Linked DNA regions of Homo sapiens: region 1 is linked to region 2. Evidence: fine-mapped expression QTL. A gene starts in region 2. The other region holds a variant in brackets. All regions are shown on one strand. Distances are between the middles of the regions. Region 1 overlaps WRN (WRN RecQ like helicase). Region 2 holds the start of WRN (WRN RecQ like helicase).

Region 1 (2,500 bases), 96 kb before region 2:
AAGTGTCTTGCTTAAATAAACTTCTTCTTTAAAATGAAAAAAAAAAAAAAACCCAAATCCTATGCTATAAATTGTTAAACGCTAACGACTGTAAAATATGACAAAAAGATTATAAACCTTTCATTTAAATAGATTTAGAAGTTAAATTCCTAAGTCACCCTTTGGGTAGATCTGAAACTATCATAAATTCAAATGAGAATTATTTAAGTAGGTTGAGAACAAAAGGACTCATTAAAGAAAATCTACTATAGAGTTCAACTACCTAATTCAATTGCTTTCCTTAGAGTAAGTATCTTTGAAATAGCAATAAGAATGCATTCAATATTCCAGATATAATAATGTTTGGGGGAAAAAAACTATGCTTAGGTTTATTCTCCTAATCTCTTTAGTGAGATGCTTAGCTGATTAATTTTCTTTTCTATTATGAGTATTTCAAGCTAATAAACTCCCACAAAGTACTATTCAATGTTGCCTCTTACCAGTTTTTTTTGTTGTTGTTATTAAAATTTTGTAGAGATGCGGTCTCGTTATGTTGCCCAGACTGGTCTTGAATCCTGGCCTCAACTGATCCTCTCTCCTCAGTCTCCCAAAGAGCTAGAATGACAGGTGTGAGCCACTGGGCCCTCTTACTAGTTTTTTTTTTTGTTTTGTTTTGTTTTTTTTTTGAGACAAGAGTGTCGCTCTGTCGCCAGGCTGGAGTGCAGTGGCCCAATCTCGGCTCACGGCAACCTCCGCCTCCCAGGTTCAAGCGATTCTCCTGCCTCAGCCTCCCAAGTAGCTGGGACTACAGGCGCGTGCCACCACGCCCAGCTGATTTTTGTATTTTTAGTAGAGACGGGGTTTCACCATGTTGGCCAGGATGGTTTCAATCTCTTGACCTCGTGATCCCCCAGCCTCGGCCTCCCAAAGTGCTGGGATTACAGGCGTGAGCCAACGCACCCAGCCTCTTACCAGTTTTAATGTATATCATTGTAACTATCCCTAAGTTCTAAAAATGTTAATGCATATTAATGTAGTTATCTGTAGGTTTAAAATTTTTTTTAATTTCCAGTTTGATTTTTTCTTTGAATATGAATTATTTAAGTGTTATTTTTAATTTCCAAATGCATGAGGATTTTGTTGTTTATC[T/C]GCTTATTTACTTCTAACTCAAGTGCATTATGGTCAGAAAATGTGGTGAGAAAACTTCCAAATTCATTGAAGAATTTTGAGACAAGCTAGTCTAGTACAGGGTCAGAAAACACTTTCTATAAAGGACCAGATAGTAAGTATTTCAGGCTTTATAGGCCATGATAGGCTTTGCAGCCAACTACTTAACTCAGGCAGCCCTACATAACACATAAACAAAAGGCATGGCTGTGTTCTGAGAAAACTTTATTTACAAAAACATTAGTCAAGCGTGATGGCTCATGCCTATAATCCCAGCACTTTAGGAGGCTGAAGTAGGAGGACTGATTGAGGCAAGGAGTTTGAAAACCAGCCTGGGCAACATACTGAGACTGTCTCTACCAAAAAAAAATTTGTTTTAATTAACTGGGTCTGGTAGTGCATGCCTGTAGCTACTTGGGAAGCTGAGGTGAGGCAAGAGAATTGCTTGAGCCCAGGAATTTGAGGTTACAGTGAGCTATGATCATACCACTGCTCTCCAGCCTGTGTGACAGCCTGTAGTGACCCTATGTCAAAAAAATAAAAAAAAATAAAACAGCATGCAGATTTGGCCTACAGGCCATAGTTTGCCAACCCATGCTCTAATACATAGTTTTTTTGTTTTTGTTTTTTAGTTTTTTTGTTTGTTCAGTTGGTTGGTTTTTTTTGAGACAGAGTCTCGCTCTGTTGCCCAGGCTGGAGTGCAGTGGCGCGATCTCGGCTCACTGCAAGCTCCGCCTCCTGGGTTCACACCATTCTCCTGCCTCAGCCTCCCGAGTAGCTGGGACTACAGGCACTCGCCACCACATCCGGCTAATTTTTTGTATTTTTAGTAGAGACGGCGTTTCATCATGTTAGCCAGGATGGTCTCGATCTCCTGACCTCGGGATCCACCCGCCTCGGCCTCCCAAAGTGCTGGGATTACAGGCATGAGCCACTGCACCCGGCCCAATACATAGTTTTTAGAAATATTCCATGTATGTTTGAGGAGTGAAGTCTTTCAGTGCTTCTCAATCAGTGTGCTACAAACAAGTGAGTTCTAAGAGTGCTGAAAGGTTAATCACTCCAGATCTTAGGGTTTTGGACAGAAACTGAACTCTGACAATTAGCCCAGTGTGTTATATACACATATCATTTGCTATGTGGGTCATGAAGTAAAAATACTTGAGATACACTGCTATAGTTGCTTGCTCTAGGGCTCCATATACTATGTATCTGATAAATCAGTATACTATGTATACTGATAAATAGTAATAAGCAAACTTATTACTATGTTGACCAAATTTTCTACAGTGTACTAATTTTTGGATTGTTTACCCTACCAATAACTTAAAATTATATCAAATTCTCCCACTTT
Region 2 (3,020 bases):
ACGTCCCTGACCACTTATTGTAAAACTGCAGCTCCCTACAGCCCCCCACCCACAACACACACACACACTCTTCATCCCCCTTTCCTTTTTAATCTCTATTTTCACCTTCTGTCATCCTATAATTTTACTTTTTGCCTGTCTCTTTCCACTAAAATGTAAGCTCCAAAAGGAGAGAGATGTTTGTCTGTTTTGTTCATTGTTGGTATCTCTAGTGCCTAGAGCAGTCCTTAATAAACATTTGTTGGATTAATAAAGGGAGACCACTGTGGGGGAAAAAAAATAAAAGAAAATAAAATTTTAGCTGAAGAATGCAAGCCCCTTTAAATTATCAGGCCCAGAGAGGCATTAGAATGAAAAAACAGTCCCGTCTCACTCCCGGTCTGAGCTGGATAATTATCTCTTAAAGCCCACCTGCTATATGGGCTCTAGACTGGAACCAAGAAGCCATAAAATGCCATATGCTGGACACGATAACTCATACCCTATGAGTTACAGTGTACAGCCAATCACTAAGCAATGGTATCTCTGTAAACCAATAACAATTCCTGACCAACTTTGTCTCAGCCCACTCTTCCCCTTCGCCTTTAAAAACCTGCTTGTAACCAAGGCTGAAGGAGCACTCCCCAAGGCAACTGGGAAATGAGTCCTGGGCAGCTGTCCTCATTTTGGCTGAAGTAAACACTTTAAATTATAATTTTGTGCCCCAGCCTCTTCCTTTTAGGTAGACACCACTATTCAATGACATCAAGATCTGAACTGTCCTACTTATCCCAATATCCCACCCCTAAAAAGAAATGTACCGAACCATAAAAAGCCTGAAGTACTCCGACTTACAGACTCCTGTATTAGCATCCTAAGAATTATATTACCCTCTTCAATAGGGAGTAGTATTTTTCATATCAAACCTAGCCTGAGAACAACTGAGATTCAACTAGGAAAAAAAGAAAAGAAAATCCATTAAAGACTGAGTGATTTGAACTCAAAAATATCCATCATCACTTGCTAAATCATAGACAGCAGGTTATTTCCCTCGACTTTGCTGTGCAGACCTGTAGTGGCTCAATTTCTGCCATAATAAAGGCCGTACTAGAAAGAGCAATCCTAACTAAGCGCGCAAGGTAAACATCAAGCTGGGGCCGTCAGGGGCGGGGAAACACTTTCTGAATGGCGGAAGCTCCGAGAGACGCCTTTCCCAGCTGCTCCAGAGGGGAAAGGAAAAGGGAGAAAGTCTGTTTTTCCAGAATCTCCCAAACACAGCCCAGGGGCCTGCTCCGCGGGCCTAAGCGCCTCCACGTGTCTCAGAAGCCTAGCACTATAGATACCCCGGGGCACGGAGCTGGGAAAACGGGAATAGGAAGACACTTTACCCCGAGAAGATCCAGTCCAACAGGTCTTCTTCAGCCGGATGACTGTGGAGCGCCACCACAAGCAGGGCCTGCAACCCAGGCATCCAGGCTAGACACCAAATCAGCAAACTTTATTCCCGCGCTGCCGAGTACAAGCCGGCGCCTCCCCGGCGCACACAGTACACATCAGCTCCGGGAGACCTACCCGACCCGCCCCTCCAGCGCCGTCCCCGCCCCCGTTCCTGCCCCACCCCTTTCCCCGCCCCCGGCCCGGCTCGCCTTTCTCGCGGCGCTGCAACCCTCCCACCACAGCCCATCCAGCCCCGCCCAGCGCGCCGCGGTGCGCATGCGTGGAGGCCCTCGCTGCCGCTGAGCACCTCGGGAAGTGTAGTCTCTTCGCAGGTGCGGCTGGGCAGCTAGAGTCCTGCATCCCGGTGGAATCCGGAGAAGTGAGAACATTCCCGCCGCCCGGTCCTCATTCCCATCTTCCCACCTGTCCAGTCCCCTCGCACTCCCGCTGCACCCCACGCGCCGGGCTTCAGTCAGAGAGTGCACTGAGGAAGAGCGGAGACCCCCTCTTCCCCTCAGCAGGCTGTGCCGGGGGAGGCGGGGTCCACCGCCCGCCCCCCGCCGTCGCTCTCCCCGCCTCCCCTTCCCTCCCCTCCTGGCGGGTGCGGGGCCGGTGTCCGAAGTCAGGCGGCGGCCCCCGCAGCGGCCGCAGGAGGGGCGGCTGCGGTGGGCGCCGCGGGCGATGCCCCTGCCCGGCTGCTCCGGCGGGGGGCAGTGCGAGCGGCGGCGGCGGGGGAGGAGGCGGGGGGCGGCGGCTGCGGCGGCTGCAGCAGAGGGGCCGAGAGCTGGCGGTGGCGGCGGCGGTGGTCGTGAAGGGCATCGGCGGCGGCGGTGATGGCAGAGATGATGTGAGTGCCCGCCGGCTGGAGACCTGGGGCCGCGGAGCGCGGGACGGGCGGCGGCGGCGTGCGGGAGCGGCCCCGGGGGCGGCGGAGGGATGCGGGGAGCGCGGGCAGAGCCGGAGCGGCGGCCGCCAACCGGCCGGCAGTGGCTGGAGCCCCGCGCTGCGGCGCCGGGGGAGCCGGGCCCGGCGTGGGGGTCGCGGGCGGCGGCGGGGCGGTCAGGCCGAGGGGCGTCTGCGATTGTTCTCAACACCCCTCCCCCACCCCATCCCGTGTGTCTGTTTGTTACTTGCAGCTGAAGATGGAAAGAGCCAGGCGAAGGGGAGGCGGCGGCGGCCGCGGCCGCGGAGGCAAGAATGTAGGGGGCTCTGGCCTAAGCAAGAGTAGACTCTATCCCCAGGCCCAGCACTCCCACTACCCCCACTACGCGGCCTCAGCCACCCCTAATCAGGCCGGGGGCGCAGCCGAAATCCAGGAGCTGGCCTCCAAACGAGTGGACATCCAGAAAAAGAGGTTTTACCTAGACGTGAAGCAAAGCTCCCGGGGCCGCTTCCTAAAGATAGCCGAAGTCTGGATAGGGAGAGGCCGGCAGGACAACATCAGAAAGAGTAAACTGACCCTCTCCCTGTCTGTGGCAGCGGAGCTGAAGGACTGTCTAGGGGACTTCATCGAGCACTATGCCCACCTGGGCCTGAAAGGCCACCGGCAAGAGCATGGCCACAGCAAAGAGCAAGGCTCCAGAAGGAGGCAGAAGCACTCGGCA

The links. PIP is the estimated chance that this variant, and not a neighbour inherited with it, causes the effect.
Region 1: its variant is the best candidate, but not a certain one, in a credible set for the expression of WRN in whole blood (INTERVAL, PIP 0.51).

Annotation. Positions count from the first base shown.
Region 1 is chr8:31,128,170-31,130,669 of GRCh38, reverse strand. The region is part of intron 23 of WRN (WRN RecQ like helicase); the gene reads right to left. Among named protein-coding and RNA genes, the nearest start is that of WRN, 96 kb to the right of the region's middle. The variant T/C (reference allele first, on the strand shown) is at 1,129.
Region 2 is chr8:31,032,321-31,035,340 of GRCh38, reverse strand. WRN (WRN RecQ like helicase) reads right to left here and starts at 1,531. Exons shown (of 35, transcript NM_000553.6): 1 at 1,368-1,531. It overlaps PURG (purine rich element binding protein G), which reads left to right and starts at 1,985. Exons shown (of 2, transcript NM_001323311.2): 1 at 1,985-2,263; 2 at 2,553-3,020. The coding sequence starts at 2,559. RefSeq lists enhancers at 374-423, 1,257-1,778 and silencers at 494-563, 1,534-1,793, 1,954-2,003.